Linked DNA regions of Homo sapiens: region 2 is linked to region 1. Evidence: fine-mapped expression QTL. Tissue or cell type: testis. Region 1 holds a variant in brackets; the other region holds the start of a gene. All regions are shown on one strand. Distances are between the middles of the regions.

Region 1 (5,226 bases):
TACCCTAAAACTTAAAGTATAATTAAAAAAAAAAGAAATCTACATTGGGGCTGATAATTGTAAAGGCTTTTAACATGAGGCAGAAATTTAGTGATTGAAGATTTGCAGCTTTGCTCTGGTTATCTGCTCTGTCACCTTTAAACCTTCATTTCACTTGTAAAACAGAACACTAACATTTTTTACTTCTTGCGTGACTGTCATATCATGGGTGCATTAACAGCTCTGAAACGTTTTTGTTTCTGAGAGGAAAGATGGTGTGTAAATAAACATTGGAATTATGACTTTTTCTATGTAGACTTTCCTGTGAAGCTTAAAATAAGGAAAGGAATATTAGGGATCTTTCTTTCTAGTGATAAATATAAACAAAGCCATTCTGTCATCTCCCTTCTGCAGGATGACACCAGTGGAATCTTTCAACTCTCAAGGCTGATATTGATGTAGTCCTCCACTAAATGAATTATTTGGTACTAGATGGTTACAGTTTTTGCAGTAATTTATTAGGAATAAAAACCACCTGCTAATTCACTTCAATCTTTTATGTCTTGGGCATTTGATGTGCCTATACCTTTGCTTACCCCTTAAGTTCACAGTGTTCATGAAGGTGGTGCAGTGTTTTCGTTTTTCCTGTCCTCACTTTCTTTACAGTAGCAGTCATCTGCTCTTCATAGAAACTCAGTTCTGACACACAGCATGGACAGAGGAAACTGCAGTTTACTTAACGTAAACCTAGGTCTGCAGTTTCCTCTTCTTGTTATAACAATAATGACCAAACCCTGAAGTTACATACAGATTTCCTTTCTTTTATGATTTTAAAATGCTTCATCGACTTCATCCACCATTCCTGGGCCAAAGCTAGTTAAGTCGACAGTGATAAAATTTGAGTTAGAATCCAAGTTGCCTATTGAGTCATTCTTTTGACTAACCTTCATTACTTTCCAGTTCTAGAATGCCACATAGATGCCAAAGAGAGAGCTAATTTGTAGCACTACTGCACAGGCAAAGACATAAATTTGATAGAATAAAGCCTTTGTTGCTGGTACATCTTGTTACAAATTGAAGGGGATTACAGCTTTCTCAGTAGGCATTTCTAATATTTTCTTAACTGCTAAATGCTGTGATTATAAATGCATGCCATTAGAGAAATGCTTCACTCTATGCTTTTGCCAAGGTGTTTCTGAAATTTAAGAAGTTAAATGTATAATTATCGCAAGCTTCTCAGGAAGCACTCCATTTTTCTATTTTCTATTAACTAGCTGTAGGCACAATGAGCAAGCACTCATTCCTATGTGTTGAAAATTATTATGGGAGGACTTTCAGAAGGGGAAAGAAATGGGCTGTGTCTTCTAAACATTATGATAGTAGAGTTAACATTGAGTTGTTGGTTCTTTAAAGAAATTATCTCTGATGTAGGCATTGTATTTCCTAGCCTTAATTCTGTGACTGTGCCAACAGAGCAAGGGACGTGTGTTATCAGATGGGGACCTTTGAGCTTGACCCTGAAGAATGACTAATGGTCATAGAAGAAGGCAGGGGACAGCATTTCAGGCAGAGGGACCCATGGGAAGATACATGACTGCAGTCCTGGTGATTCCTAGGGAATGGAGAGGGGTGGGCTGGGAGTCAGCCTAAAATTCCATTATGAAAGACTGGTAAGCTAAAAAAGTCTACCAGCTACCCTAAGGAGCTTAAACTTGCCTTTTGGTCAAAGGAAAGCCATCAAAGAAGGGAAGTGGCATAATCAGATGTGGCCTTTGTAAGATCTCTCTGGCATTGCTTTAGAGGAAGAATTGAGTGAAGAAGAGGGAAATGTTGGAAAGAACCTTTAGAAAGCTACCATAGTGAGTCAAGTGAGAGGTGCCAGCCTGAACTGGGGCAATGACCATAAGAACTGAGGAGGGAGTAAATGTGGAAAGTCATTTACACAGTAAAATTGACAGAATTCAGTGACTAGCAATGGGGGATGTGCATGCTATTTTATATTAAGCAATTTGTAAGGATTCTTTGGTATAGTGGCAGACATAAGAATGTTGTGTTTCTTACCACCTTTGCCAAAAAGCTATGTAAGCCATTTCCCTTGCTTTGTTTGCCTGCAGTTTGCTTCAGGTAGCTGAGATGTTAGTATTTATCTCACTGACAGATTGTTAGGTGGGGTTCTGGCAAACACTATGGGGACTACACAAACTTTTCTTTCCAGAACCCTTTGAAAATACCTTAAACAGAGAGAATCTCTGGTAGCTCCCAAATAAACCGACATATTTGGCCAGAGCTTTGGCATTTGCTGCAATATGTGTGCCTTCCTCAGAATTAACTGGGATTTTAGGGTGGCTCTCCTGATCTCTGTAATCTGAGTTGGTGTTACTATACTTCTATTCTAGAATACTCTCTGTCATCCATTCATTTGCTAACTTTTGTTCAAGC[C/T]GATGTCATAGAGGAGCCAGGCTAACTATGGTGGCTCCCAACTATGTGGCTCCTGCCCTCAAGAAGTATAGTCTAGTTGTGGAGGAAAGATATCAACACAACTAACTGAGATACAAGGAAGCAGTGAAGAGAATCCCAAGAGAGACACATAGGAGTTTGAAGAAGAATTTACACCTGAGAAAGCAGGATTCTTTCATAGGGCAGAAGTAGTTTGACCTGGACCTTAAATTAGGTTTTGGGTTGGATTTAAAGAATCCACATTGAAGAAGAGTATTCCTAGTGGGAAGAATAGCATTAGAAAATGCACAGAGATACCAAAATATTAGATGTTTTTTGGAACTCTGAAACGATTTCATGTTTCCAGAATACCAAGAATTGGGGGTGTGGGAGGGGAGGCAGGAGAAGGAAGATTTCATGAGAAATGAGATTGGGACCAGACTGTGGAGGATTTTGAGGGCTGAGAAGTTTTACTTCATTCTAGAAATAATGAGGAACGACTCAGCATTTGTTTGCCTGCAGTTTGCTTCAGGTAGCTGAGATGTTAGTATTTATCTCACTGACAGATTGTTAGGTGGGGTTCTAACTTTTCCTAAGGAAGATGGTTGAGGCAGGGCCTTCATGAGATAAATTATATTATTTCAATCTGACTGAACAGTGACTGAATAGTGAGGGAGCTGAAGAGTGATTAAGCAGACTTGGGGCCAGAGTGAATTCAAGTCTGATTGCCTCTGGAGGGTGTCTTCCTTCAGCCTTCATCACTGGAGTGAGGACTGATAGGTGGCCCAGAAGCCAAGGTAACCGGAACCACAGCAGTCCTTCGAAAGAGGGCATGCACTCAGAGGGCAGCTCTGGAGGACAGAGACAGAAAGAATACGTAGGGAGGGATGGGGGTTGGGGGGCGGGAATGCAGAAAAAGAAAAGGTGCTTGCCCAGTCGTAACTTAGATTTGAAAAGCTTATAAACTTTTCATATTTTATTTTCAGTAAAATAGTTACATCAAAGTATATGACTAGATGGATGTGGGTCCTATTTCCAGGAATATAGCTGCACTATTCACCAGAAAACTGAACCTGTATTTTCCCGAAATGTAGTTTATGCTTTGTAGTGTATTAAATTGTAGATTAGAAATACCAACAATAGCTCCTAACCTGACTTCCTGACTTCCAACTGTAGAAATGAGCAGTATCTGTAAAATGTATGTGAAAACTTGGTTCAGCAATACTTTCCCTAGGGATCCTGTCTGTATCCCTCCCTTGCCCCACCCCATTTTCTTCTGTTCCTTTGTTAAGTCTGGGGACCCACCCTACTTCCTTCCCCTTTTCTAATTCACTCATGAAATATGGATGGGTGGGAAGGGGATTTTGCACACTCTGAAACTGCATCTTGGCACAGTCTGCTGCCAGGGTAGGGTCTCTATCACTCAGCCTCAACCGGAATTTCCTTTTCCCTGTTTCCTGCAGCCTCATCCTGGAATTCTGCCTACGTCAAAGGTTCCTTGTTTAAGGATTACGAGGGGAGAAGTGGTTTGGAGTATTCTGGCTACTGTCACACTTATTTACATATTAAAAGTTGGTCTCTACCTTTTCCCAAATTTCATTTTGTCTCTTTTTAAGCAGTTAAATATAAGGTGAAAATCCTCTTTTTACTCTATATGAAATACTAAAAGGAAAAGAGGTTTGATCATTGTTTTCAAACTTATAATTGTACATCTAGGTGAGTAGTTTCAAGCAATCCCAGCATTATTTGAAGTTTATCAGTAATTTAGTTTAACCAAGAAACTACTTACTAAAGAGAAGTAGAACTTTCTAACATTACTGTAATAGAATTGAAAGTCACAACTAGGGTATAATAGGCAATTCATAATACATTAAGTTGCCCAATTATAAACTGAGAAATCACCTCATTGAAACCAGGTTATTTTTCTTAATAACAAAATCCTGACTTTGTGTTGGATTGGTATTAAAGTATCTTTCCATTGGAATTAGGCTTCCTGGAGTGAGTTATTATAGTCCATTTTTAATAGGGAATAATATGGCCACAGAGTAACAAAAAAGTAGAAGTAGCTAGTTCTTGCCTCCAAGAAGTTTACAGTCTAGCTGGGGAAAGAATTTATACATGGAAAACAGTTAACCATTCAAGACAGCATTTAATGAAGTCTCTAAATAAGACATTTAGAGGGAAGTAAAATCTGGCAAACACATTTCACAACTGCAGCAAACCATGCTCTTCTCATTTATTTAGGAACAAGGTTTACAAGTTTGGTTCACTGTGTGTGCTCTTTAAATTCTAGCTTTTCCTCCAGAAAAATAGCAGTTAACTGCCAGTGAAAGTCAGTGGTGTGCTCCTGCTGTCTGGTGGAACCATCTGCTCATTAGCTGTATTTTTAGGTTTTCACAAGAAGCCCACTGCAAGTCCTAACATTTTTAAAAAATTAGTTTGAGCGGTTTTGAAGAGAGAGGAATTTGTCATTATGCTATTTTTTGACGGTGCTCAAGTTTATTTTAAAAGGCTCAATCAAGAACATTGATACTGGCTCAGTTTGTTTGATTTATCAAACTCATGTTATCAAAGGGTCCTTTTATTCTCTGCTGTACAAATGCTGCTCCTAGCTTTATTAGGTTCTTATTCTTGTAAAATTAAAATAGCCATATCATCTGCAATATGGTTGAAAAATCATTAAAGTGAAGTATTGAAAAGCAGGTTATTTGCCACTGTTGTTTTGCCATCACCCTCCTCCCCCAGTGGTATATCTCACTCCAGACCCCAGGTGACCTTATATTCTTTTCTTCTCTACCCCCATCAAGGCCT
Region 2 (5,226 bases), 140 kb before region 1:
GACAGGGCACAGCGAGTATAAAGGTTGCTTGATTTGAGTTAAACAGTGACGTGGCTCTTCTGTGTACACATCCTACTATTCCCTGTTGTTTGCCTATTTTTATCCTGAAGCTAAATGGCATTTGTCATTTATCACCTTAACCTAAACCAATTTTCCAAAGGCCCTTCTTGAACTTTAGACGCTTGGTCTATCCCATAGAATCTAAGGAATGCTGGCCTTGCATTGAGCAACTGTGTGAATGGGTTTGAAGACCAGGAACCTGGACCAGGAGACGGAACACGTGTTCTACTTTGGAGTAGAGTAAGTTCATGGTATGATTCAATGTTGTCATTGGGGTGATGGGGCGCAAGCACCCACTAATCTGAGTGTCCTGGAGGGCTTCTAGTGGGCCAGGTGTTCACCCTTTAGTTGTATGTCATGGGGAAGTTGGAGGTATGGGGGTGAGTGGCACTCTGGGGCTCAAGACAACGACCAATTACCAACTGGAGCTGCAATATCTTAACACTGTAAAAACGGATAGAGTCTGACATGGTAACATACAAATGCAATTTCAGCCTTGGATAAATGCATGTGATAGGTATTTGGAAACTGTAATGGACTATGGAGTCCTATTATAAAGTCCTTTCCAGTTAACACACACAGCTTAAGGTGACAGGGTTTAAGGCCTTCTGCAGTGTGTTACTAGCATCCATTCTGGTATCTTCTCTTACTTCTTCATTATGTCATCTTTCCCTTCACTAGCATGACATATTTTCAGTGCCCAGTGAGTTCTGTGTGATACCACCTTTGTGTTTTTCTCATGTCTTTCTCTCTTTTTTTTTTTCTTTTTTGAGACGGAGTCTCACTCTGTCGCGCAGTGGCGCAATCTTGGCTCACTGCAAGCTCCGCCTGCCGGGTTCACGCCATTCTCCTGCCTCAGCCTCCCGAGTAGCTGGAACTACAGGCGCCCACCACCACGACCGGCTAATTTTTGTATTTTTAGTAGAGACGGGGTTTCACCTTGTTAGCCAGGATGGTCTCGATTTCCTGACCTCGTGATCCGCCCGCCTCAGCCTCCCAACGTGCTGGGATTACAGGCGTGAGCCACCGCGCCCGGCCTCATGTCTTTCTTCCTTACTTGAAGGACACCTACCCTCCTTCTGCCTGGTTGAATCTTCCCCACTCACCCTTAAGGTGCAGTTTAAACTTCCTTCCTTTCGTGGATTTAGCTTTGCCCATCCCAGGCCAGAAGCATTTCTCTCTCCTGTGGCCTGAAGTGGTCTTACCTACACTTACTTGGCAATTAGCAAGAGTACAAGTGCAATATCTTTGTTTTTCTGGATGTTTGTCTACTCCTAGGTTAAGTCTTACCTTCCTTAAGGGCAGAGGTCACAGTTCGTTCCTCCTTTTTTGTTACATGGCATGTTTTTATACATATTTGCCAAGCACCTACCATGTGAGTGGCTGAGGGCACAATGGTAAACCAACTCTGGACCCTGACCTCCTACGATTCTTGTCATTTTTTAAAAATGTGAATAAGCTTATTCAACTTTTGTAAGTCTTAGACAAAGATGGGGATCCCAGCGCCCCACTGATGAGAAGTCAACACCCTGGCTGGCCCTTGTTGAAGACAGATTGAGCTGAGATGTGAACATTCACACTCCCTGGCGTTTAAGGCACTGCTGGAATAGTTTCACTCTCAATGATCCAGAATTCCTGCCTCCTGGAAGGGTGTAAACAATGATTCACACCACGGCAGGCCTTTACAGTTCACCAAGCACATTCATCACAGCAGCGGGCTTTCAGGGAAGGTCAGGTTCTGACATGCTAACAGAGATTCACCTTCAGGTCACCAGACTTGCAGCTACTCTGCTCAACACCTATCATAACCAACAAAAGTTTTCTCCCTTCGTCCTTTAAGGATGCGTGTGCCAAGAAGGGTCGGCGCAAAGCAATTTTGCCTCATGGTGTTTGCCTTGTAGCGTGTCTATTTTGAAGTTCCTTGGCCAAAACAGTTCCCAGGAGTAAAGATTACGATGAGGGGCCAGGCTGTGCAAAACGCGCGGGAGGGCGGACGACTCTCCAGCACACTTGGTTGAAGTCCAAGTCAACCCCTGGCTATTCGAAGAAGTGAAGCAGGACTTTTCAGCCTAAGGGGTAGGGGGACAGGGACAGGACAGAAGAGCGGGTTTGCCGGAGATTCTGGGAATTCTGCACCTGTGGATGAGCCGGTGCCCAAGGTGCCCTCTTCCTCCCGGGTCCCGAGTGGGAGATCCGAGGGGGACAGGTCCCAGGCAGCTTTCGCAGGCGAAAGGGCGGGGCGGGGCGGGGCCCGCGCACCTGGGCGGGGAGGGGAGGAGAGAGGAGGGGAGGGGAGGCGCGCGGGGCTGAGCCTCGCGGGGGCCGCGGCGCGCGCCAATGGGCAGCGGCTGGCAGCGCGCCCCGCGCCCGAGCCGCAGTCGCGCCCTCTCGCTTCCTGGCGAAGGCGCGGACGGCGCGCGGAGGCGAGCGCGGTGGAGAGGAGCCCCCGGCGCCGCAGCGCCGTCAGGGCATGAGGATGGCCGTGGGCTCCGTCAAGATGCAGCCGCCGTGCGAGAGCCCGGCCCTGGCCGCCGCGGCGGCGGTGGTGGCGGCAGACGGCCCCCTGCGCCGCAGCCCCAGCGCCCGGGAGCCCGAGCGCGAGCAGCCGCCGGCGTCGCTGCGGCCGCGGCTGAGGGACCTGCCCGCGCTGCTGCGGAGCGGGCTCACGCTGCGGAGGAAGCGGAGCGCCGCTGGGGGCCGGGTGAGTGGCCCGGCCCTGTCCGAGTGGGCACGGGCGGCGCGCACGTGGAGCCCGCGCCCACCCCCCGGGCCGCTGAGGGGGGCGTCTGGAAGTTGGGGAGGTGGCGGAAGGGACGCCCTTCTGCCGGACTCGGCTGAAGAGGGGCCCGGGACGGCGGGTTTTGAGGTGCCACCCCCTGAGCGACGGCTTCCCCCGCCCCCACACCTCCCCCCCACCAGGCTGCACCTGACTTAACCCCAGGGCCCCCAGATTCAGGCTGCGGGACCGGGCATCGGCTGAAGACGAGCTGTTTGCCTCTTCTCGGAGGGGAAGCTGCAGGTGTCCAGCGTCCAACAGCCAGCCAGCCCTGTCCCAACCGCAAGCTTCAGGCCCCACGAGCGGCATCCCTGTTTGCAGGACGCATGCGACGTGTGTGCTTGTTTTGGAGGTGCTGTTGCAAGCTCTGGGCATCGAGACTGGTTTTGGTGGTCTCCACCGCCGAGGGGCAGACCCAGGAGTCGGAAGCTCTTGGGTGAGCTTCCAGTTCCTGGGTTCCGGTGTCTCCAGCACTTAATACTCCTGGACACCCTCTTGAGCAGGAGGGTGCACGCCCCCAAGAACCTTCAATATTGACTTCCTGATGGTGTGTTCAGATACGATTTCCTGGTGAAGGAGTGTCCCTCATTGAGTTCTAAGTGCATCTAATGACCTGAGCAGGTCAGGCATGTTTTGTATTTTTAAGAGAAGCAGGAAGGTCTGCTGATTGTCTCCTGGGATCTTTAAGAAGCCACCTAGGAGGCCCCGCCAGGGCCTCAGGACACAGAGCTGACTTACTCAGATTTCCCTGCTCACCAGGGTTTGGCGGCACCTTTGGTGGGTTCTACTCATCTTTTAAAAATTTATTATTAAGTGGTCTTTAATGAGAAGCTGCATCAATGTGGTTTTTCTTTCCCGTTTGGCTGTAATTTTTAAAATGCAGTCTTGTCTGACTTAAAACAAGACCTTGCTGGGAGACTTCTAGCTCTTTCAGAGATGGGTTTGTGTAAACTTGAGAGTGAGGGATAACCACTTGTTTTCATGCGCCCTCCTTTGGGTAGGGAAGGGTCTGAACTGATGTCGGTCTTCAGCTTCTCGAGGCTGCATCTCTCTTTTCCTAGGCATTTTCCATCTCAGGTGGAAAATGGTCCATCCCAGGTCCATCTCAGAAGATGTTCTGAGGATTCTCTGTGTGTGATGGGACATTCTTAAAGTCGGTGACCCAGAGAGTTTAGGAATTGCCCACAAGTGACCTTAACATGTGTGGCATTTAGGATTGCCTGCAAAGTAAGTGAGGAAATGTGTCCCCAAGATGTGGTGTCGGAATAAACAAGAACTGGAGTTATAGACTTTGCAGGAATCCAGGGAAAAGTAGGTCAAATTATGTTTCTATTATCCTTGACGGTTACTTTTTCATGGCACAGAATACTGAAGACATGAGGGCTGCCAGGCAGTCTGCGACAAGAATTGCTGAGGGTTTCTGTATAAATAGATCTATAGTATTTATTTGCGTTCATACTCATGTTTCTTGCTGCCTGGGAGGGTGTCGTATACCTTGTCAATATACCTATTTAGTTTTATTTTTTAATTACTCTGAATGTGGTTACCTCAGATAATGTATGCTTTATTAACCCTCTTTGATTCTAATACTGTATTATTTCTTTTTGGGACTTTCCAAACACATTTCGTAACTGCATAGCCAGTTTTTATTGAAGGAAGTTTGATTGTCAGTTTTTCCAGTGTTGGAAACCCATACTTTTTGACTATTTATTTGACTGTTTATTTCCCCTTTCTTCTGCCTTGGAACTACCTTTGTGATTTTGGAATCTTCCCCATCAAAGGAGTAGGAAGGGGGTTGAAAGAAGGAGAAAAACAAGTGAAATATGAACTTGTCTTAGGCAGCTCAGGCTGTCATAACAAAATACCGTAGACTGGGTGGTTTAAACAACAGGAATTTATTTTCTCACAGCTCAGGATGCTGGGAAGCCTGAGATCAATGTGTAGGCTGATTAGGTTTCTGGTGAGGGCTCTCTTCCTGGCCTGCAGATGACCACTTTCTCGTATATCCTCTCATGGCCTTCCCTTGGTAAACGCAGAGGAAGAGAGGGCTCCCTCTTCTCATAAGGCCACTAATCCCATCATGAGGGCCCCACCATCATGACCTAGTCTAACCCTAAATAATTATCAAAGGCCTCATCTCCAAATAATGTCATGTTTGGGGTTAGGGCTTCAACATAAGAATTTTGTAGGGGGCATACACTTAACAGTCCAAAACACAGGGGGTTTGAAAGAAAGAGAGATACAAGTAGAATATGTATCAGACTGGTTGGTTGGTGACTTGTTAGCATCTGGGATTGTCTGGTTAACCACCTTGGATTGGGCAGTGATGCTAATGCAAACAAATCATGGCTTGGATCTTTTTGTAGACCTTCAGCTTTGTGTCTCATGGG

Which allele goes with the higher level. Alleles are on the strand shown, and positions count from the first base shown. SD is a standard deviation of normalised expression in the study named.
In carriers of allele T in region 1, the expression in testis of the gene that starts at base 2,437 in region 2 tends to be higher than with C alone (small effect, 0.35 SD a copy in GTEx).

What was found. PIP is the estimated chance that this variant, and not a neighbour inherited with it, causes the effect.
Region 2: RAPGEF5 starts here. The variant in region 1 is fine-mapped to the expression of RAPGEF5 in testis (GTEx, PIP above 0.99).

What each region holds. Positions count from the first base shown.
Region 1 is chr7:22,212,776-22,218,001 of GRCh38, reverse strand. The region is part of intron 9 of RAPGEF5 (Rap guanine nucleotide exchange factor 5); the gene reads left to right. Among named protein-coding and RNA genes, the nearest start is that of RAPGEF5, 140 kb to the left of the region's middle. The variant C/T (reference allele first, on the strand shown) is at 2,419.
Region 2 is chr7:22,354,365-22,359,590 of GRCh38, reverse strand. It overlaps RAPGEF5 (Rap guanine nucleotide exchange factor 5), which reads left to right and starts at 2,437. Exons shown (of 26, transcript NM_012294.5): 1 at 2,437-2,761. The coding sequence starts at 2,531. RefSeq lists silencers at 2,292-2,681, 2,742-2,971 and an enhancer at 3,092-3,161.